Linked DNA regions of Homo sapiens: regions 1 and 2 are each linked to region 3. Evidence: fine-mapped expression QTL. A gene starts in region 3. Each other region holds a variant in brackets. All regions are shown on one strand. Distances are from middle to middle.

Region 1 (8,188 bases), 59 kb after region 3:
AAATTTCTGAGCATCAAGACATTTCCATACATCCTCTGAAATCTAGGCGGAGGTCCCCAAACCCCAGTTCTTGACTTCTGGGCACTCATAGGCTCAACACCACCAACTTATAGGCTCAACAAGCAAGATGGCTGCATGCAAGCATGCCTTCTGCAGCCATGGCCTGAGCTCTATGTTGGCCCCTTTCAGCCATGGCTGGAGTGGCTGGGATGCAGGGCACCAAGTCCCCAGGATGCACACAGCACAGGGACACTGGGCTTGGCCCATGAAATGATTTTTTACTCCTAGGTCTCCATGCCTGTGATGGGAGGGGCTGCTGTGAAGACCTCTGACATGCCCTGGAGACATTTTCCCCAGGGTCTTGAGGATTAACATTCGGCTCCTTGTTACTTATGCAAATTTCTGCAGCCGGCTTGAATTTCTCAGAGAAATTGGATTTTCTTGTCTATTGCATTTTCAGGCTGCAAATTTTCTTAACTCTTATGCTCTGCTTCCCTTATAAAACTTAATGCATTTAACAGCACCCAAGTGACCTCTTGAATGCTTTGTTGCTTAGAAATTTCTTCTGCCAGATACTCTAAATCATCTCTCTGAAGTTCAAAGTTCCACCAATCTCTACAGCAGGGGCAAAATGCCACCAGTCTATTTGCTAAAACATAGCTAGAGTCACCTTTCCTCCAGTTCCCAACAAGTTCCTAATTTCCATCTGAAACCACCTCAACCTGAGCTTTTTTGTCCATATCACTATCAGCATTATGGGCAAGGTCATTCAACAAGTCTCTAGGAAGTTCCAAACTTTCCCACATTTTCCTGTCTTTTCCTGAGCCCTCCAAACTGTTTCAACCTCTGCCTGTTACACAGTTCCAAAGTTGCTTCCACATCTTCACGTATCTTTTCAGCAGTGCCCCACTCCTGGTACCAATTTACTATATTAGTCTGTTCTTACACTGCTGATAAAGACATACTCAAGATTGGGCAATTTACAAAAGACGGAGAGGTTTAATGGACTTACAGTTCCACGTGGCTGGGGAGGGCTCACAGTCATAGTGGAAGGCAAGGAGGAGCAAGTCATGTCTTACATGGATGGCAGCAGGCAAAGTGAGAGCTTGTGCAGGGAAACTCCCCCTTATAAAACTATCAGATTTCATGAGACTTACTATCACAAGAAGAGCACAACAAAGACCTGCCCCCATGATTCAATTACCTCCCACTGGGTCCTTCCCACAACACATGGGAATTCAAGATGTGATTTGGGTGGGGACACAGTCAAACCATATTACACATGGATCCTAGAAGAGAAGAGGTTTTGTTTTTCTCCTGTAAATCTCTATAACAAACATTCCTGAGAGCATAAGTATCTACCTCCTGAAGTTCCCATTAAATCTTTTAACCAAATTCATTTCCTCTCTCCTAGAGACCATCAAGCTTCAGATGATCATGTGACAAAGGTTCCAGTCAGTTCCAGGTGAAGACACCACCCCTGGTCATTAAGGAGCTACCCTGTCTCCATTAGACAGAGCAGGACAAGAGTTCTGTGATCCACAATGGGTAGGGACTACACCCTGAGCCAGCATGAAGCAGTTACAGAAGAAAGACCGTCAGTCCCTCTGCCTCCCATAAAGATTTATGGGGATCACATCTTTTGGGGGGAAATAAGACAGGAGAATAGGGCCTGGAGGCAGGGAACCTAAGGACTTATTAGAACTAAATCAAAGGAAAACACTTCAGTGATGACAGGAAATATCCTCTTCATTTACATAGGGCATACACCTAGTAAATGACTTTGTAACTTGAATTCATCCTCTTCATTTACATAGGGTTTACACCAAGTAACCAGTGAAAATCTCTAGAGGGTATTTAAGCCCCAGAAAATTCTGTAATCGCACTGTTGAGACCCTATGCTTGCTCCTGCTCCCACCCTGTGGAGTGTACTTTCATTTTAAAAAAATCTCTGCTTTTGTTGCTTCATTGTTTCCTTGCTTTGTTTGTGTATTTTGTCCAATTCTTTGTTCAAGACACTAAGAATCTGGACACCCTCCAGTGGTAACAATTTGCAAGCTCGATTGGAGGTGGAGTGGCTTCAAAATTGGCTTAGTCACATGGCTGGCAAGTTGGTGCTTGCTATTGGTGGGAGGCTTTCACTATTTCTCATGGGTTCTTCTCCAATGGGCTGCTTGAGCTTCCCTCCAGTATGGTAGCTGGCTTCCCAGAAAGAGTGGTCCAGCAGAACAAAGCAACAGCTGTGGTGACTTTTATGACCTATCCTCAGAAGTTAAACATGGTCTTCTCCATCAAGTGGTTGCACAGACCACCTCTGATTCAATGTAGGAGGAGACTTCAGATGATCACGAATAGTAAGAGGTGAAGATCATGCAGGCATCCTAGAGCCTGACTGTGACAGGGTAGTATATGCCTATATTCCTCCCTCAATATTTTCCTGTTTTCCTACTCTGCCTGTTTGGCAAGGACACAGTGGCTCCTAACCTCTCTACTCTTAATCTCTTCATTGTGTTTTCTTGATATTTCTCAAGATTCCTACATATATTGAGTCATACAGAATGTAAAACCAACAGTTTTTAAAATTAATCAATTTTAGCAGTTTTTAAGCTTTCAGAGCTGTCCACTTCATCCTAACACTTTAGGAGTTGGTGGCCATCCCATGATCTCCTTCACGTTTATGTAATGTTCTATCTGCCTGCTCACAGTCTGTATCTCATCCTGGAGAGTCCTTATTTGTAAAGCATATCTGTCTTCTTGTACTTATCCTTCTGGTCTCTTCATGGATCTACTACCCTTTCTAGTGCTTTACCTATGTCATCACAAAGATTCCAGAATGAAGTCTCCTTCCTTCAAGATGGCAACCCTGGAGCATGGTTTTATTTGAGCCTGAGCTGGAATTGCAAAATTAGGCAGCTTGGCAGGAGAAAGCTAGAGCCAGGCATCAGTGGACCCCAACCTCTGAAGAAACCAACGCTTTTACAAACAGCTCCCTTCTGTAATGTCATGGGAGAGTAATTTTTTGCTTTTATAGGGTTTCTTCAGACAGAAGTACCACACAAAGATTATACAAGGATCTATGCTTTTCCATGTGGGGGTTTGATACATTAATGAGAATTTGACAAATCCTGACCACTCTGCCATCTGTGGGCCTCATTCTGTTCCTACTTCTGTGATGCTTTCCATCTGTTCTGAGACAGAGGAACTCGTTCCACTGACATAGGCAATACTCCTAACCCTACCAGCTGTCTTACAAGGGTGTGTTGCTGCTCACTGGAGAAAATGAAAGAAAAGGTATATATTCAACAAAAATCCTGCCAGAAACAATTCACATTCTTCCGTACAGGTAGCTTACAAAGGGGCACAATATGGGATGGGTTTATATTAATCATATCTCATACTTTTCATGAGGTTATGTCATCTTACTGCTCAGAAACCTCCAATAGCTCTCACGACTTAATCAAACTCCTTATCTTAGCATTGTAGGCCTTCCGGCTGTCATTCAGGCTTCATGGCACTTTATTAATACAATATTCCTTTCCCTTCCCCGCTACATGTCACCTATACTTTAGCCAAATGGGACCACATACTATTGTTCTAACCTGCTCCATAAATTTCTGCCTCCATGCTTTTAGAAATTGTATTCTCTGCATTCTAAATGTTTTCCTGTCATGTTGACCATAGAAGTGCTTCCCTTCCCTGAGATCTGTGGTAAGTGCTACCTCACTTATGACACCCTTCCTGATTTCCTCTATCTAGTGATCTCACTTCCCCATGGACTCTGAGAGCACTTTAGTGGTAACGTGTTTATAGACTTACCACATTCTTCCGGATATTTGAGCTGTTACTGTAACAGAGTCACGATGCTTACTTCCGCACTTGATGTTTTCCAAAATATTGATGGCTGAGAGTGAGAACAATCTGTTTTAATTCTGCCAGTGATTATTAAATTTATCTTTGAAGAAGGGTAGATCTTTGAGTTTTGGAGAAGAATAAGACTTAAGGGAGTTTTAGATTATACAAATGAAAGATAATCTTTTGGAATACAGAGACTCTGGTCCAATGTTTCTCAATTTGGTTTCCACAAAACCTTAAAGTTCAATATGTCATCACTAGGGGTTTGTAAGAGATTTTGATTTAAAACCTAGACATCAACTTTCGAAGTTTGCATACTTTGAGGATAGATAGTGGCTAAGCAGACATGTCAGCAATTTCATTCGGGGTCTTTCAGCCCCATTGTGGCAGTGTGCAATAGGATTGTATTTGTTTGTGCCCAGTTTGGTTTATGATGCAAGCTATGGGAGGTTACTGGTAACTGATGAGTGCTATATTGCACAGACGAGAGGGGTGGTAAATGGATGACATGAGTTTTTCCTTCTCTAACTATTTCCCCTAAACTCCCCTTATGCACTACAGGATGACTCACAGGA[C/A]CAAACAAGCTTTGCTAGTATAACTAAAAATGAGGGGAAATTTAATTTTCATTCTAAAGGCTCAGCTGCACCCTGCCCCACCTCCTGCCCCCAGTTTTGTTGTGGTTACAAACATGGCAAAACATAGGTTGAAAAAGACTAAAAGTGATTTCTCCAGTGATTGATGAGTTTGGGGGGATTTTTAAATTTTACTATGCTCTTATGTTTTACACTTAACTCATGTTTGTATTTTATAAACATGTTTGATAACCCAATGTGGTAATTTTTGAAGGTGAGATGTGAGATGGAAGAGGAAAATTTTAGGCCTGGGGATAACCCTGATAAGGGTAGTGATGATGAATTATAACCTTCTGAGTCATTTTCCTGTGTGATTGGAACAAAGGACACAGAAAAAGTCCATCTTTATGATGAAAGACCCTTACCAAGGAGCTTCTATAGGCTGATTATCCAAATTTTCTTATTTTATTGAGAATCATCCATGTGAGGAGGCCAGCAAGATTTTTCTGTAAAGAGGCAGGTGGCAAATATTTTAGGTTTTTCAGATCACATGTAGTCTCTGTCACATATTCTTCTTTGTCTTTGTCTGCTTGTTTAAATGCTTTAAAAATGTAAAAGCCAATCTTAGCCCTGAGGGCTGTACCAAAGCAGGCCTCTGGTGAGGTTCGGCCCATGGGCTGTCATTTGCCAATCCCTGCTATGTCAAACAACTTAGAGATGTGGGAATGGCTCCAATAAAAAAAAAAAAAGAAAACCCAAACAAAACAAAAACCCTTAAATATAAGTCATAGGTATTCGAGAAGTAAAGATGCTGATTACTTTAAGCAGCTATTAGAATCTTAAAACAAACAGTAACTCTTGTTAAAAACACACAAACACACAAACAAACAAGAAACAGGTACATTCAGTGAAAAGGACCAGGGAGCAAGTTATTTAGTAGCAGAACTTACTGTCTTAAACAGGAAAAGTCACACAGTTGGTAAGGCTAACAATGTGATCATGTAAAATTACTGTGAATCAAAGGCTAGGAAAAGATGCACTACAAGAAACTGAAAAGGTTCCACAGCCTCAAACAGTGTCATATGGTGAAGTATTGATGACACGTCACACAACTTTGAAGAGGTTTTGTGACATACCCTGAAAAACCGCAGCTTCCTTTTCTAGGTTGATGAGTCAGGGGATTTCACCAATAAATGTCATACTTAGCATTTGTAAGATTTGCAAGTAATTGTGAAATTCAAGAAAACAAAGAGTGGCCCATAACAAGGAAAGGCCAAGATATAATTAATGTTTGGCCTTCATATCTATAAACAAAAGGTCTAAGAACTACATTGACATGAACACTGATAGTGCTCTGTCAAATTTGGTTCTATGAGAGCTTTTGCATCTTATTAAATGAAAAAAGTTTCTCACATTTTCACAACACATTGGCTTCTTCAAAGAGAATGTCAAACATTCTTGGAGATGAAATGAAAGTTTTAGATAATATTACAAAATGGCTATCTTTGTTATATAAAGGCTAACTTGAGAATACTTTTAAAACTGAAAAGGTGTCGATAAAGGCCACAGAAATATCCTGCTATACACAGAAATTTGGTGGCTCAGCAGAGGAAGCATTTTCAACAGGGTGTTTGAGCTAAAAGATGAAATTCAAAAGTACTTTCAATATCATACTGGGCAAGTTTCGTTAAGTGTTTTGATGAACAATGGCTACAAAAAGTTGCCTTCTCAGCGGACATTTTTCATTATGTGAACAAGTCTCTGCAAGGCCCTGGAGAAAATGTTTTGACTTTGAGTGACAAGATTCTTGAATTTAAAAGGTAACTGAGAGGGACTTCCGATTCAAGTGATGATGGAATAAGACCCTTGTGAAAAATTCCCTTGCAGTAAAACAACTATAAAACCTAAACATAAAGCAAAAAGCAACTACTTGAAGGCACTAGAGAGAGAACAGAAGCAGAAAGACATTGGCAAAGAATAAATATTTGGAAGAGGAAGCAGTATGAAGTAAGTGCCCTGTGTCTGTGGCTTCTAGCCTTGGTCTCAGTGCAACCCACTGAGTGTGCACAGTGGCAGTGTGGTAGAAGCATCAGTAGAAAACCCACCATCTCTCTGGTAGGGGAATCCATGGCTGATGGAGAGAGTTGGAGAATTCCCAAAGAGAAAGAAACAGAGAGCAAATCCCCAAAATTTTGTCTAATGATTTCTCTGACTGATTCCTGAATGACATATGCATGAAACAGACCAAAGGCAGTTCAACTAAAGACAAATGATCTGAACTGAGACTAGAGTTAAGATGCAAGAAACAAAGTTGCATAAGCCAAAGAAAACCACTTGTTAGAGAAGCAATAAAATCAATAATCTGCACAGCTTGATATTCATAAAGTCCAGGGTAAATCCAAAATTTCCCAACAAAAAAGAACCAAGAAAAATGGAATGTATCAAGAAAAGAAGATCAATTGAGACCCTCAGATAAGATGTTAGATACAACAGACAAGGATTTTTAAACAGCTATTATAATGATATTCAATGAAACAAAACAAAATATGAGCTCAATAAATAAAGAAAAATTGAAAATTCAACAGAGAAAAGCAGACAAAACTAAATTGAAATTCCAGGACTAAAAAATGTAATATCTGATCTAAAACAATCACTGAAGAGAACAGCTGAGTGGAAGTGACAGAGGCAGGAGTAAGTGAAGTGAAAAATAGATAAATAGTAATTGTTCCATGTGACAAACAGGGAGAAAAAAAATTGGAAAAAAACCTACAGAGTGCAGGGACTTGGTACAAAAATATTAAATGTTCCAATATATGTGTAATTGGAGTCCTAGGAGAAGAGATTAAAAAAATAGAAAAAAGATGATTAAAAATGGCCCCCCAAATCTCCCAAATTTGATAAGACAGAAATTTACAAATAAATATGCTCAAAGGACATCAGGTAAAAGAAACATAAGCAATCCCACATCAAGGTACATCATGGTCCAACTGTTTAAAGCCAAAGATTGAGAAAAGTCTTCAGACTATCAACAGAAAACACCATATATAATAGAACGATTATTTAATTAACAGCTGAGTTTTCATCATAAACCACGGAGAACTGAGTGGTAAAATATCTTTAAGGTGCTGAAAGAAAAAAAAAAAACATCAACCCAGATTCTATATCCAGATAAAATATTCTTCAAGAACAAAGGCAAAATAAAGATATTTTCTGATGAAAGAAGCCTAGAAGTATTCATTACAAGCAGACCTGCACTAAAAGAAATGGCCAAGGAAGTTCCTCAGGCTAAAGGTAAATGATACCAGATGATATTAGTATCTCCATAAAAAGAAGAAATAACATAAAAAATTATAAATACAAAATAATTTTTGTCTTTGATTTTTCCTCTTAACTTCTTTATGTGACTCACATAACTCTTCAAAGAGAAACTATAACAGTATCTTCTATGATTTATAACAAACATAGATGTAACAGATATAATAATTATAACATGAATCATGAAGGGCTTATGGAACCAATGGCTTCCAGGTTTTTCTAATTTACTTGAGTAGTACATTATTAAATGTAAATGGTAAAGTTAAGGATTATATTGCACTCATAAATTAATTACTAAAATAATAATACAAATAAGGATAGCCAATTATTTCAAGATGGAGCAACAAGGACTGAATATATCCTCTTGCCTGAAACAACTAAAAAATAAGAAAAAAATATGAATATTAAGGCATTGGGTATCAGACAATAAAATACAGTGAGATGGTAAA
Region 2 (8,188 bases), 29 kb after region 3:
TCACCCCTAGCCCAGGGGTAGCCACGCTGCACACATCAGCTTCTTCTAACCCTGCTTTCAAGTGCACATTTAAATTAGTGGCTCAGTTGTGAAGTAGGCAACACAGATTTCCAGGCTCCCCATTCTGCGTCATTTTCCCCTTTCTTTCTGGCTTCTCCCCCATATCAAGCTTCCAAGGTCTTTTTGTTTGGAAACATACCAATGCTACCCAAAGGATGTTTTTTTCAATTATTTATATTTGATCTGAAGGTCCATTCTAGTAAGGATAAGTCCTCACATTAAATGCATACAATTTGCCTGTGGGACTTTGGTATGGTTATGGCTGTCATACATTCTCCCTTCTTAGCCCAGTGTGGGTGTGCCCAGACTCCACTACTGGTTGCTGATAGAGCACCATTCTCTTTCTCAATTTAAAGCAATTAAAGAGCCCATTTCTACCCAGCACCACTCTGGTGTTGTGGCCCAGTCTATGACCCTTAATCCTATTTTACCAATAGGTGAAACCACAATAATAGCTAGCATTTTCTCAGTGCTTTACATTTATTAATTTATATATTACTTATACAAGTTATATGTAACTTACACTTGGTAGTTATACAAGGTAGATTCTATTATCCTAATTTTACAGGTGATAAAATTGAGGTACAGAAAGGCTACATACTTGTTTAAAGTCAGTAAGAGGTGGTAGGTTTCAAACCCACTCAATCTGGCTTCACAGTCCATATACTGGCACTCGATAAATGCCACATATCCTCTGGGCCAAGCTTAAATATCGCCCTTTCGGTTCTTTTTCTGCCTTATACGATGGGACAAATCTCTACCCTCTGCACCCTCATTAACCTGTACATGCCTCTATAGTAGTCCTCATCTCATTGCACAGGGTTATTTTACAAGAATGCTTTCTAGTTAGATGTGCCTTGAAGGTGAGACCATGCTTCCTTTTGGTATCTCAGTACAGTGCATGGCAGGCTATATAAATTCTACAAATGTTGGCTGAATAAATCAAACTTTTCCTGGTTCCTTCCGCATCCTTCAAAACTCCTATTCTATATCTCTTTCTAATAGGTTGCTGTATGATTTGTACATTTTTTCTTTAAATCAATGCATCAGTATCAATGGCTGATTAGAGTTCAAGTTTTGATGGGGAACTTTAATGCCTTAATAGGATATAATAGCTAAGGGTGGGAGGTTTAGGCACTGTGATACAATGGCAGGGGAGAGATTCGTCATCAGCTGGTATGAGCCTGAGGCTAAAATCTTACCTTGTAACTGGCTATTCGTTCTGTCCATTCTTAGGGCATAACTTGGTTACAATAACTGGAAGTTAGTGAATTTATTTCCTTTTCGTAAAATGAGAGATTTGAACCAAATGATGTCAGTGTTCCTCTTCAGCTCAAAATTCTGTATTTGTAGGAAATTATAGAAGTAAATAAATATATTTTGAGAAGCTGATAAAAATAGGTGGAATTAATGCAGGAGTTTCTAGGAAATTGTATAAAATGTTAGTGGTAAAAGTGTCATCTGAAACTACTTGGAAAGAAATGTATTTACAGAGTTAGGTATGTGCAAAATTAAATATTTACAAGGCTATGTGTAAGCATTAAAGTAAAAACATGGTTCCGAATATGGTAAGGATGAAGAACTTGATTTCATAATAAATACTGAATTACTATACTTCCTTCTTGGGAACACCAGCCAAGGGTTAGAAATTTTAAGGATAAAGCCATTTTAAAAATTATTGCTAGAAAGTTTTCATTTTACAAAAATTACCTAATTTGCTGTTCATACCAAGATAGAGTTTGTGTTTATATAAACAACATAAATTTAAATTAGATTTTTAAAAAAGTTCTTAATTGGTAGTGTAAGGTCCCCTCTGTGCATCTTCTAAGTGGTTTACATGGAAATATTCTTGAAAAAGCCCAAATAGATGAATAGTTGCCACAGCCTTGCAGTGCTATGCAATTCAAGTTTTAAGAAGATTTGAAAAAAGATAGGGTGGGAGAAGGAAACAGACATTCATTAAGTATGTCGACCAGTCATGTTCCAAGCATTGTGCTGGGTAGTTTACATATGCTGTTCCATTTAACATGCACAGTCACTTTGCCTGGTGTTTATACCATCCCCACTTAAAAATTTAGAGACTAAGTCTGTTCCTTCTTCCTAATGCTACTGTTTATTTCCTTTCTTTTCTCTTGAACACGGGCATTTTATGTTTTTAGGACAAGTTATTCTAAATAATAAAAAGAGCAACAACCGCTGTTTATTGGGCATTTTCTATGTACTAGGCATTGTGACAAACATTTTACAAAAATTTCATAATTTACTCTTTATACCAATCCTTTGAGGTGGGGATTACTTCACAAGAACAGAGAGATTAGATACCTTGTGCTGAATTACATGTCTAGCAAGCAGTGGAGTGGGGTTTGAAACTGGAACCATTGACTCCAGCCGCTCTACACTAGTGTCTCTGTGGTTTCCATGTGGTCCACTCAATACTGTGATGAGCTGGTTCACAGGAATGTCAATAAGAAAGAAAAATAATGATGTAAATAACAAAGTATGTCATGAAAACCATTTAATGTTGGTTAATTAAATTATACAACATCTGTGGAGCTGGAAAAGAAAAATTTCAGGTTTTACAAATAGTGCCTAATAAAACAATTGAAAACACAGTAAGCATGATTTTATCAGAGTTGAAAGTACACAAAGTGCACACAAAAATTCAGAAGTACCTTTAGTCCACGTTGTATTTTCTTCCTGTTTAGTCACTTCCTTTAGGGAAATATTGACAAATCCCTTACAGCCCCCCATTTAAAACAGTTTAACCAGTAGATTCTTGAAATTCTGAACAGGGTCTTTAGTGATTAATTAATTGAATGCTTTTTATATTCGATTCTTATTCTCTCTGTGAGGCACAGCTCTAATGTTTATAAACCTAACTTTGTTCAACCCCCAATAAAGATAGGTTGGCCTAGTATACACGGAAATAGGATGTCTTACATTGAAAGTGCCTTTATTATGTACATTTTATGCTGTTCTTTTCTTTCAATTTCTCTTTCTCCAGCTTTTCTCTTATACAGTTCCTTAAACTTACTTCTCCATTCTTCTTTCTGGTTTTTCTCAAATCTTTGTTCACTTCCTCAAAAATAAAACTGAAGTCATTCTCCAAGGGTTCTTTCTGGTCCTGTGTCTGTACTTCCACCTTAGAGTCAGTAGTCTCTTATGTAAGTTTC[C/T]GTATCCTGACTCTAACTTCCCTGAACAAGCTCTTAACTTTCTCCTTTCTCTCTCTCCTTTTCTTATTTTTTTTTTGTTGTTATCAATTGTCTTTGATAGAAGTTTGTCTTTTTAAAAAACATTTTTATTCCACTCTCCTTGTCCTTTAATTGCTTCTGCCCATTTGGTTGGCAAGACTGAATAGCCCATTTCTGCTTCTCGTTTTCTGTATGCTTCAAATTAAAGAAAGTGTTAATTTTAAACCTGATCCCCTTTCTGTCAATCTCCTCTTCTCCCAAGAATGGAGGCTTGGCTTCTATTGGCTTATGGTACCCTTGTTTCTTCCTGGGTGATTATAGAATAATGGGCATCAGATTGACCTGGAGAATTTTCCCATATGTCTGATCTTCCCATTTCTTTTACATCTACTCTGATATCCTGGGAATAGGGTGGTATAGGGGGTGAACAGCAGACACAAGGTTTTTTTGACAAAGCTCCATGTGATTTTCCTGCTGAGACCTTCTCTCTTCCAGCCTACCACTGATTGGGATCCTCTACTCCAGAAGCTCCTACTTCCTGGGTAAGACATAGATACATGTGTTTAAGGCAGGATTCTGCCAGTTGATGAATGAGCCATCAGTTTAGCAAGCAGTGAGCGGAGTGCTTTAGGGGGCAAGATGTGAGTGGTGCATGAAAGGGATCATATGCCTCTTTTCCATTTGCTACCAGGAAATTCATGTAGGGTTGAGCCAAGATTCATTCTATTATTAAGTTGGTGCAAATGTAATTGCGGTTTTTGTTATTAAAAAAATGGCAAAAATTACAATTACTTTGCATTAACTGAATACAATCAATAGTAATTCTTCATACTGCATTTCTGCATACTTACTTAAATTTCAAGTGAAAAACACACACACAAAATGTTGTTCTGAGTTCACATAGCCTTTGGTTTGCATACAGAGTCTGCCCTAAATTCTCCAAGAATTGGAAGTCCACTGCGTCCAAAGAAATATACTGAAACAAATAATCTTCAGGCAATGCCTAGAGATGTGTCTACCAGTTTCTCTGACTTGGACTAGAGCCTTGGATAAAAGTAAAAAAGAGACATTGTCCATTTCCAGTGAAATTGAAGGACTCAACACCAGTATCTGATGATGTATCAAGTCAACTATATCCTCCAGAAGAACAGGAAGAACTTGATTTTTTATTTGATGAACAGACGCAACAAATAGAAGAAAAAGAAACACATTTACTGATTGGTCTCGTAATGATTCAGATTATGAAATTGATGAGCTGAATTTCAACAAGATGTTGATTTGAACTCAGCTATCATTTTACCTGAGAAAACATCCTGGATAAGATCAAACAGGCAACCACAGGTTTCAGGCAAAAATGGCCTATGTCATTATGAATAAGACTTGTGGATGGAAGAGGATGAAAACAAACATACAGCCATAAAGAAATCGACACGCTGATCTAAAATTCACATGGAAATCCAAGGGAACCAGAATAGCCAAAATAATCTTGAAAAAAATGAATGAAGTTGAAAGACTCGTACCTCCTGATTTTAAAACTTACTATAAAGTTAAAGTTATCAAGACAGTGTGGTACTGGCATAAAAACAGACATATAGGTCAGTGGAACAGAATTAAGAGTCCAGAAACAAACCATGTGGTCAACTGATTTTTTACAAGGATGCTAAGACTATTTAATGGGACAGAAGACTGTAGTCTTTTCAACAAATGGTGCTGGGACAACTGGATAGCCACAAACAAAAGAATGAAATTGGATTCTTACCACACACAATATACAAAAATTAATTCAAAGTGGATGAAACACCTAACTCAAAGAGCCTAAAACTATAATACTCTTAGAAGAAAACATAGGCATAAGTCTTTTTGAACTTGGTTAAAACATTTATGACACCAAAAGCACAAATGACAAAAGAAAAAAATGGATTAGATTTCATAAAAATTTAAAATTTTCAGCCAGGTGGTGGCTCATGCCTGTAATTCCAACACTTTCCGAGGCAGGGGGATCACTTGAGCCCAGGAGTTCAAGACAAGCCTGGGCAACATGGAGAAACCTCATCTCTACAAAAAAATTTAAAAATTAGCTGGGTGTAGTGGTGTGTACCTGTAGTCCCAGGTACTCAGGAGGCTGAGGTGGGAGGATCAATTGAGCCCACGTGGTCAAGGCTGCAGTGAGCTATTATCATGCTGCTGCGCTCCAGCCTGGGTGACAGAGAGAGACCCTGTCTCAAAGAAAATACAAATTAAAAACTTTCGTACTTCAAAAGACACCATCAAGAAAGTGAAAAGGCAACCCAAGAATGCGAGAAAATATTTGCAAGTCATGTCTGATAAGGGAATTAAATGCATAAACAACTTTTACAACTCAATAATAAAAAGACAAATAACTCAATTTAAAAATGGGCAAATAATCTGAATAGATATTTCTCAAAAGGAGATTTACAAGTGAACAATAGCACATGAAAAGATGTTTGGCATCATTAGCCACCAGGGGAGTACAAATAGAAACCACAATGAGATACCACACTACCTAGCACTGGCTGGCATAGCTATAATCAAAATGACAGATACTAACAAGTTTTGGCAAGGATGGAAAGAAATTGAAACACTCATAACCTGGTGGTGGGAATGTAAAATGGAAAACAGTCTGGCAGTTCCTCAGAAGGCTAAACATAGTTATCCAGCACCTCTTATCATAGGTATATACCCAAGAGAAATGAAAATATGTGTCTAAACAAAAACTTGTACATGAATATTCTTAGCAGCATTGTGAAAGTGGAAAGAACTCCAATGTATACCAACTGATGAATGGATAATTAAAATGTGGTATATCCATGTAATGGAATATTATTTGGCAATAAAAACAAATGAAGTACTGATACATACTACAACATGAAAACCATATGCTAAGTGAAAGAAGCCACTCACAAAGGACAACTTATTGTATGATTCCATTTATATGAAATGCCCAGAATAAGGCAAGCCATAGAGACATAGAGCTGGTGGTGGGGAGCAGGCAGAGAGGAAATGGGGAATCAATGCTAAGGTTTCTTTTTTGTGGTGATGAAAATGTTCAAAATTGATTATGTTGATGGTTACACAGCCCTGCTTATACACTAAGAACCCCACGGAATTGAATACTTTAAATGGATAAATTATATCATATTTGAATCGTATCTTAATAAAGCTGCTACAAAAATTTTTTAAATTGCTGTTATGTTTATATAGAATAAGTCCCATAAAAATGTTCTGAAGACATTTTTCTGTGTAGAATATTAAGCCAATACTAGTGACAGCAGGCTGATGCCAAAATATTCATATATATTAAACTAGAATGCTGGAGAAAGCTTAAGGAAAAAGGTACATTAAACAGAGTAGAATTGAAAACTACCTCTTCTCTCTGGTTTCACATAAAGTTTCTATCCTCAGCATGCTGTATGAATTATAAGAAATCAGAAGTAAAGAGTAGAAATGCTATTCCATGTGGTTTGGGGTGAAGAAAATAAACTTTTGCATCAAACACGTGTTCAAATACTAACTCAGTTTATTGTGGGGCAATAAATGACAAAGTTATTTACCTAATGGTAGGGCAATGGTTGAGGAAAACTGTTGAACTGTTTCCCATACATAGTCTGGGGATATGTGGGTATTTTGTTTGTATGTTTTTTGTCTGGCTAGTGTCCTTTTATCCTTCTTTTGTACCAGAATCTAGAAATATCCTTGGGAGAAACATCTTTCTCCTTCTGTCAGTTCCTGTACTTTGGTGAACTTGAATTCCTTCCTGCTTTTCCATGTAGGTGCCTGTAGCCTGGATGATCAGCACATTCCGAGGTTTAGGGATGGGGCCAAATCAAATGTAGCCAGTAGGATTAATCTTATGGCCTTTGTTTGATTGTGAAAGTGGACTTCCCTCTGCTGCTGTGGGTGAGCTCGAATCTGACAGGACAAATGTCTGGAGTTCTCGGACTTCCTGCCCAACTCATGAAGTCTGAGCGTGTGGCCAGTGCTGTTGTGAGAGAGCGGAAACATGCAAAGGTCCTGGGTCCTAGGGACATCATTATGGCCCTTGTTAAAGGCACAACAGCATGAGCCCTGGACTTTCAGTTATAAGCCGAGACTTTTGCTTTCAAGCTTAAATAAGTATTGGAAATTACCTGTACCCAAATGAATCCAAAGGTAACATTACTTGCTGTTCCAGTTACTATGGCTTGTAGCAAATGGACCCAAAACTTCATGGTTTAACACAAGAACACATCTATTTTGCTCACAAATCAGCAATCTGGGTGGGGATTGGAGTGGCTCATTTCTGCTCTATTCAGCGTTAGTTGTGGCTGGAAGCTGGGGCTGGACTCATCTGGAGGTTTACTCCCTTACATCTGGTGCCTGGGCTGGGACAGCTCAAACAGCTGGGACTGGAGAAGTTGGGGCTCCATGGGTCTCTCTCTACATAGTCTGCCCATGTGCTCTCTCCAGTATGGCAGCTTCAGAGTGGCTGGATTTCCTACATGTCAGCTGAGGGCCCCCAGGGCACGTGTCCCAAGGGAGGAGAGCAGGGGAGAAGCTCTATCATCTTTTTTGTCTTGCCCTCAGAAGTCATGGAGAATCACATACACCATAGTCCCAGGCCCACCCAGATTGGAGAGGAGCAAACGTGGACCCCACGTTTTGATGGAAGAGTGTCAACATCATACTACAGGAATTTATGGATTGGGATATACTGGCATAGCCATTTTTGAAAATACAATTGGCCACACACTATGAGGTATTTGTAAAGATTAAATAAAAATTTTGTCATGAGACTATCCTGCAAAAATATGATATAGAGCTGGAGACCCAAATGGGCTGAGAGACTCTAAGGAGACTGTGTGAACTGGAAAAAATTATCTGGCCAAGCCAGGGAAATGCTAGTGAGGAGAGATCAAAGAGGGAGTTGAGTGGAGAAA
Region 3 (8,188 bases):
AACCAGATTTCATTAACTCACAACGAGAACACCAGCTCAATTATTAATGACCTAAATTAATCTCCCTATGAAGTATATTCATGATTTATATATTTTATTTATGGTGCTCAAGTTTTTCCTATATAACAAAACATAATGGAAAAATTGAAATATATGTACAATGTCACATATATCTTTATGAATGCATAGGCAGTCTCTGGGGTACAAGCTGCAACAGTACCCCACTCATGAGGCTCAGGTTGACTCAGGAGCCACCGTGACAATACCGAAGCATCCGCTCAGAAGCAGTGAAAGACAAGCAACAAAAATTTGTTACTTGGCCATTAGAGGAAGCAAAATTTTCTTTTTTTTTGAAAAAAAGCTGCCTTGAATTCCTAATCACCATATATAAATTTCACAGCTCTTTGAAACTTCTATAAAATCAACTTCTGTCCCTCCTGGATTTCAAAATACTACTTATCTTTGTCTTCTTTTATAATACCCAATAGGTCACCAACATTTATTAAATGAATGGTTAAAAATATGCTGAATTCTAGATAACCAGCTTACAGATGACCCTTTGAGAAGCAACCTACACCGGACAGCACATTTCATAACTAATGGATAATGCGGTTTAAACGGTGTCCTTACTTCTAACAAGAACCACGATGAAAATAGAGGAACCACAGTCGTCAGTGTCCTTAATTCCTTACTATATACAATAAAGTATGAGTTTACAGAAGTGAATGTATATACTTCAAATGCTCCTTTGGTCCAAATAGTTCTGGACTCTCTTGACAGGATACAAGACAAAACAAAACTCCCATTGTCATGTGCTTGCTACCATACCATCTACTTGCAAAATAACTTTCGTAGTGCTTAGGCAATCAATTATTCTTTCTTCAGTTTTAGAAAGAAGAAATCAACAATATTTTGCTCTCTTCATCAACACATCTGAAACTACTAGAGTTCCCAACTTTGGCCAATAGTTTGTAAGCACTGATAAGGATATGTAACATTCTCGTGTAATTTCTAAATAAGTTTCATTACTTCTAACCTCAAGATTATCATTTTTGTCCTTTTTCCTAAGATAAAAAGACAAAAATGTAAAATAGGTTATAAGGACCCCTAAAAACATAAGGGAAATGAAACCTAAGACTTAAATGTGACTGTGGAATACACAATCTATTTTAGCATACTGCGGTAAGCCACTGGTATAAAACATATCGACTTGATTGAACCCTCTAGAGGTGACTTTTGGGGAAAAAATGAAAAATCTAAGATGAAAATATTCTGAAGTTTCATATTATAAAGGATATAAAACACACCAGTCTGACTTGAAAGTTGACAGAAGTAAAATTTATTAAATAGGTGCAAATTCTAATAGTGCAATTAAGTATGGCTCACTAGATTAGAAACCTTTAAGATAATTCACTATTCTAACTAAAAGCACCCCAGAAAACTGATGTTAAAGTAATTTTACATTCCTTATGTATAATGGTTAGAGGAACTGCAAACTAAAGGAAGTTGCATTCTTCTGTTTTTAAAATTTAGACTATTCAACCTCCCTTTACATTTGGCTAACATGTAAAAAAAAAATCTGACAGTTATTTTAGATTTAGTTAAGAAAAAAATTCTACAAAACTATCAATGAGGCTATTCTAAAATCACTATTTAAAATTTTGAAAACACTATGATTGAACCAAGAGAACACAAGAGGAGGTTTTAGGACCAAGTAAAGGACCATACTTGAGGTATTATCACGTATACTTGACAATATTCAAGAATCATACTTGATAGTGTTCGGATTTTGCAATACTTTAAACTTGCATCTAAAAGACAACTTGTTGATGGATCTTGGCTCGATTTCAAGAACCTATCTAAATATCATAAACAGCATTTTAAGCTGATTGGAAAAAAACAGACAAAACTTAAGTAAAATGGAATTCTCTAAAATACTTTCTCGGAATATCGGAGGAGGGCTAAAAACAAAGGAAAAAAAAAGAATCAAAACAAAAACATGAGAGTACTATGTTTTACCACTGTATTCCAAACCACTATGCTGCTCAAGTAAAATTTACTTTACCTCTTCCCTTCACTACTGCGTGCTTCATATCAACTGAATGTGGCAGCTACCCACACAAGTGTTCAATGGGCATGTGAACGCAACGCTGTGCCATTTCCCTCTCCACATGTTCTCTAGGGTTAAAACTACAGTTCCTTTAAATCCTCGTGTTTCATTTTCCTTTTCACAGAAATCCTGTAATGACCCTAAAGCAGATAAGAGCAGAGCGGCCTCTACACCCAGGGATAAGGAGCACGAGCAATCACTAGGTGCCAAGGAGTTTGAAACGGAGCCCGGCGGAGTGGGACAGGGGAATCCACTACGGCTACCGGGGCCAGGCGAGTGTCCTCCGCGCCGGAGCCGCAGAGGACCGCGGCTGCTCCGGCGCCCGCGCCAGGACTTCTCCCACCTCGCGCCCCGGGAGACTTACCTGCCCAGCCAGGGGCGAGCGCGCCGGGCTGGCCCGGGGGAAAGCCCCGCTCACTCTCCACTGCGGGTCCCCGGGGCCGTTACCTAACTGGTCCCAGCTCCAGGCCAAGAGGCCGCGCTTCAGGGAAGGGCATGCGCTCGCCGGCGACGCCCAAGCCCCGAGCCCCGAGCCCCGAGCACCGGCGCCCGGGAGTCCGCTGGGGCCCGCCTCAGCCCCCCGCCGCGCCGCCGCCGCCGCGCGCCCCCAGGCCCCGCCTCCACCGCCCAGCCCTCCATCCTCCTCAAGCCACCTCCTGCCCACTGCGGCGCCTCCTCACCTGCCCCAGCCGCCGCCGCCCGCGCCTCCCCCGGGCCTCCCCGCGCCGCGACCCTAGCCCCAGCCCCAGCCCCAACCCCAGCCCCAGCCGCCCCCGCCCCCCTGCCGCGCGCTCGTCCCCAGCGCGCCCCGCTCCTCCTCATCTGCCCGGGCCCCGAGCTTTACCTTGTAGGAGTCGGTGGCCAGGAGGATGTTGAACTCGGCTTCTGCCGCAGGATTCATCTCGGGCCGGAGGACAGGGGCCGCGCGCCGCGAGCTCCCTGGCGCGGCTGCGAGGAAGGAGAAAAATGAGCTTCACCGCGCTCCGTTGCTTAAGTCACTGCTCGGTCGGCGGAGGAGGGGGAGAGGGGGAAACGGAGAGAGGGGAGGGGTCAGAGGAGGGCGGGCCCGGGAGCCGTGACGCGGCGCGGGTGACGGCTGCGGCGGCTCGCGTGCTCGCAGTCTGGGAGCTCTGGCGGACTCCCCACCTCGGTTCCCCCGCCTTCACCCCGTCACCCTCCGGGGGCCGAGAAAGGGCGGGGCGCGGCAGCGCGCTGCGCAGTGCGCGGAGGCGGGGCGGGGAGGAGGACGTGATGCACGCGCTCTTCCTCCCAGACGCCAGCTCTGGGAAGCTGGAGGCAGCGGGGCAGCCCCGGCGCGTGACCCGGGCGCTTACCTAAGTTCGAGTTCCCGGCACGGGCGCGGGAGGGCGGGGCCTGGAGGGGGCGTTCCCAGCTTTGCCAGTGCCACGAGGAGCCGGTTCGCCCGCCCCGCCTGGGACCTTCCGTCCTACCCAGTCCTGGCCGGTTTTCTGGGTCCTCCTGAAGTCACGCCACCCGGCTAGGGGGCGAGGAGCCTCCTACTGCCCATCTTCCCGTCCACCACGCGCAGTTACTCACCTTTGTCTCCGGCCTGGATTAAGGATCCAGCCTTTCGCCTCCATCCCTCTTGTCCCTCCTGATCCTCCTGACCCTGTCTTTAAGATCCCAGGAGCTGCGGTGAGGAGTGAGGCTGAGGGGCCCCTTTCATCTGATGCAGCGACTCCGCTTTCCTCCGGCGGCTCTGTCTATGGCTGAGCTCTTTGATCCTTTGAGAGATGGTTTGACTTTTCCCGAGCAAAGAGCCTGCGTTGAAAAGCGGGGGTGGAATTCAGTCCTCACAGATAATGAGGGGACAAGACCTAATTGAACCGAGTATTGCCGGGAAGGAAAAGGCAACGGGCCAAGCCTTTGACAGGGTGCGACACTGACTTTTATCATCGTTATAGTCTTTAAATCCTGGGAAACGAGTTGGCAACCCCAAAATAAAGAAGTGTAATGACGTCTGATGACTTCACCCAAATACAGACCATTCCAAGAAAGACTTGCGCAGTTCTCATGCGTGGTTGCGTTTTTGCATAAAACTAAGATTCCCTTTGTCCGCATGTTTAATAGCTTAAAAATAAATTGAGGTTTTTATCGGATAAAAGTAGCCAGGAAAAAGTGATACAGTGAAAACGATTACAGGATATTTATAGACTTGTCTTTCAAGTTATTAGAAGTCTCATTCTATCTGGGGGCAGTGATGGTGGTGGTGGTAGTGGAACTTGTGAATTGAGATTCATAGTGGAACTTGTGAATTGAGATTCATCTCGAAACTGGAGGCATGGCTGAGACTTCTAATAAAGACAACCTCAGTCAACACTATGTCTTGAAGTCAGTATATATTTTTGACAATCACCTCATCTACACGTAGATACAATACAGGGCAAAGATCATGGAAGTGGAAGGTATCACCAGGCACTCACCAATGTAGTAAATACTAGTACACTTACAATTATTTTCAGCAACGAGGTTTGAAACAAGAGGGCTTATGTATTTATTGGTTGATCTTCCCTGTGTTTTACCGGGGAAAATTATTTGTAAACGCATTTAAACAAATTATTATTTCTATTTTGAGACGGAGTCTCGCTCTGTCGCCCAGGCTGGAGTGCAGTGGCTGGATCTCGGCTCACTGCAAGCTCCGCCTCCCTGGTTCACGCCATCCTCCTGCCTCAGTCTCCCAAGCAGCTGGGACTACAGGCGCCCGCCACCACGCCCGGCTAATTTTTTGTATTTTTAGTAGAGATGGGGTTTCACCGTCTTAGCCAGGATGGTCTCGATCTCCTGACCTCGTGATCCTCCCGCCTCGGCCTCCCAAAGTGCTGGGATTACAGACGTGAGCCACCGCGCCCGGCCTAAACAAATTATTTTTTAATATTTGATTTTGGGAGTTTTTTTATATTATTTCAAGGAGTGCAATTCAAAGAAGGAAAAAGATAATTTTTGTCCTTAATTTGGTGTTTTTTCCTTCATTTAAAATTTATATAACCTACTTTACTTATAGTACAAATTCTTATTTGTTTAGCTTCCTGGAATTCATGTATCTATAAATGACCGTTGTTCTATGCTGCTTTATGCAGAAAAGAAAGTAGGATTCTGATTATAATGTGGGCTTTGTTTATGGTAGTATTTTTTTAAGATGCAAAATTTGATCTTGCAATCTTTGAGTTGAATTTGCAGTTTTAAAATAAAAAGGTCTTATATCTGTGCAAAGAAAAAATATTGTATTGACATTGCTTGTTAAATTAAGGAGTGAGGCCTGCACAAGTATTAGTAATGTGAATCCTCACAGTAGTCTCCAGAGAAAAAAAATGACAATGAAGTCATGTTACCAATAGGACAATCACCATTTGCCTGAGATAGAAATAGGCACATTCTCTATGTAACTACATGCTTAAGCTGGAGCAATTCAGAATTAATTGGGGTTTAGAACTATGAAATTATCACTGAAAACAGAGCCAAGATTTCATTTTAAAATGGCCTCCCCTGAAAGACAGTTTAACAGCTAGCATTAAGGTTGGACGTGGTGGCTCACACCTGTAATCCCAGCACTTTGGGAGGCTGAGGCGGGCTGATCACTTGAGCCCAGGATTTTGAGACCAGCCTGGGCAACATGGTGAAAACCCATCTCTACAAAAAATACAAAAATTAGCTGGACGTGGTGGCATGTGCCTGTAGTCCCAGCTTCTCTGAAAGGAGACTGACGTGGGAGGATTGCCTGAGCCCGGGGAGGTTGTAGCATGTAGAGGACCTGAGAAACTGTTTTTCATAGGTCACAACAACATGACAAATAATAACACATAGACTCAAATGGGCCCCCTCACTTGATTCAAAGCCCTGGATTATTATACCATCCTACCAAATAGCAATCAGGCACTGCCAATTGGGCATGCAGCTCCTTGTCTCCCTCCCTCAGAGTGCTATGAAAGACCTAGGGCTCATATATTTGTTCAGGCAAAGTGAGTGTATCTGTGCCACTCCTGTTGCCACACACCCTTGCAGACAGCCTCGGGTGCACCTTTATATTTCAAAGTTGCCTCAGATACTCCAATCTGACCTGATTTGACCTCAGTAAAAAACACTGGTGAAGTAGGTATGGAACTCACCTACCTGCAACCCCTGACGATGGTCTTATCCATCTCCCTTTATAATCTCCTCTAGACTCGCCAATTAGCAACAGTTGTCACAAAGACAAATGTGAAAAAGAGAGCTTTTAAAAATTAAACTTGGACTTTTTTTCTTATTCAAACTTCCAAGGCCCTTTGGGAACCTCCCAGAGTTTTAATTTCCTAGGGAAAGGCCTCATCCACAGAAAGACACGGTCTTCACAGATTCAATGATTTATCAGTGTTACACTCTGTAATGACTCAGTCGGCTAAGCCTGTACAATCACACAAAGAGAGGCACAGGAAACTATGGAGTCCTCGTCTAAATGTACAAAAATGATAGAGCAACTGTCATCCACACACAGTAAGAATGAGTGCACATATATAGACTATCCACAGACATTCCATTGCAAAATGTAATTATGCCCTTTCTATGGTGTCTTTGTGGTCTGACTGTGCTGCACTCTCCTAACCGGCAATGCTGAGTCGATCATCTATCTGACTTGAAACTGTCTTCAAATTTCACACAGGACGTCTATCGCAATCTATGTTTGCTGCATGGCAAGTCTCGATTTTCCCGTCTCTATTAGTTGTGTTTTTGTTTTCCATTATATTCAAGCATACATTTTTCTAATTCCAACCAAATTCAATGGGAAATAAAGATAAACAAAAATAAAAGGTTTAAATTCACCTTTAAAAGTAAGGTAAACATGCACATTATGATGCCACATGTGGGGATTCCAATGTCATCATTACTTACAAATTTTGCTAATGGCCCAAATTTAAGAGTTGCTAGCCCATATCAATGACTGAGAGAATAAGACCGTTTGAAGTATATAGGAATGTCAAGAGCTTTGAAATCAGTGTTTTCCTAAGTGAGGTCTGCTTATCATTGATGTACATGAAATAACTATCAATGGTACTAAGATACATGTTTTTGTCTTTAATAATTATGTACTTATCTTAAATGAGTTTTGTTTTGTTTGTTTTTTGAGATGGAGTCTCGCTCTATCACCCAGGCTGGAGTGCTGTGGTCCGATCTCAGCTCACTGCAACCTCTACTTCTCAGGTTCAAGTGATTCTCGTGCCTCAGTCTCTTGAGTAGCTGGGACTACAGGCATGTACCACTATGCTTGGCTAACTTTTATATTTTTAGTAGAGAAGGGGTTTCACCATGCTGGCCAGGCTGGTCTTGAACTCTTGACCTCAAGTGATCTGCCCACCTTGGCCTCCCAAAATGCTAGGATTACAGGCATAAGCCACTGCCTTTGGCCTCTAATGAGTATTTAAAAATGTAACTAGCACATAAAACCTGATTTTTTGTGGGAGGGGTATTATTACTTAGGATGAAGCTGAAGGAGGTGGGCACTCAGACTGGTGAACTTTCTATTTCTTTTTCTTACCTTTCCCTAACCTATATGCTGTTTTCACATCCTCCATATAAGACTGGTTTTCTTGAGGAAGCTGAACATGAAAGGCTATATGTCTGATTCCATTTATTTGAAATTCTGGAAAGGGCAAAGTTATAATGAAAGAGAGCAGATCAGTGGTTGTCAGAGACTGGGATTATGAGAAGCAGAATGACTGCAAGCAGGTCTGAGGAAACTTCTTGGGGTGATGAGAATGATATATGTGGTTATACGACTGTATACATTTGTCAAAATTCACTGAATTCTAAGCTTAAAGTTGGTGAATAGCATATAAATTAGATCTTAATAAAACTGAACTAAAAAAGACTGATTTTCTTGTAATCATTTTAAATATTTTCCCCTCTTCTCCCATTTTGTTTCCTCTGTTTCCATTCTTACCTTGTGTTGTTACCATGTTGCTTTACGTGATAGGGGATGAGCACCATTTTTGCCCTCCTCCAAGGAAGGACAGTTCTTGAAGTTGCTGAATGTTTTCAGATGCCAAAAGGAGTCTGAAAAATCCTGCTATTGAGTAGGAAGCAGAA

What was found. PIP is the estimated chance that this variant, and not a neighbour inherited with it, causes the effect.
Region 1: its variant is the best candidate, but not a certain one, in a credible set for the expression of NAMPT in whole blood (TOPMed, PIP 0.55).
Region 2: its variant is the best candidate, but not a certain one, in a credible set for the expression of NAMPT in whole blood (TOPMed, PIP 0.64).

Annotation. Positions count from the first base shown.
Region 1 is chr7:106,341,242-106,349,429 of GRCh38, forward strand. No RefSeq gene overlaps it. Among named protein-coding and RNA genes, the nearest start is that of NAMPT-AS1, 60 kb to the left of the region's middle. RefSeq lists an enhancer at 4,896-6,095. The variant C/A (reference allele first, on the strand shown) is at 4,428.
Region 2 is chr7:106,311,071-106,319,258 of GRCh38, forward strand. It overlaps the pseudogene LARP1BP2. Among named protein-coding and RNA genes, the nearest start is that of NAMPT-AS1, 30 kb to the left of the region's middle. RefSeq lists a silencer at 2,364-2,503. The variant C/T (reference allele first, on the strand shown) is at 3,234.
Region 3 is chr7:106,281,874-106,290,061 of GRCh38, forward strand. NAMPT (nicotinamide phosphoribosyltransferase) reads right to left here and starts at 3,110. Exons shown (of 11, transcript NM_005746.3): 1 at 2,955-3,110. The coding sequence starts at 3,011. NAMPT-AS1 (NAMPT antisense RNA 1) reads left to right here and starts at 3,373. Exons shown (of 1, transcript NR_186647.1): 1 at 3,373-4,453. RefSeq lists silencers at 2,440-2,799, 3,070-3,609.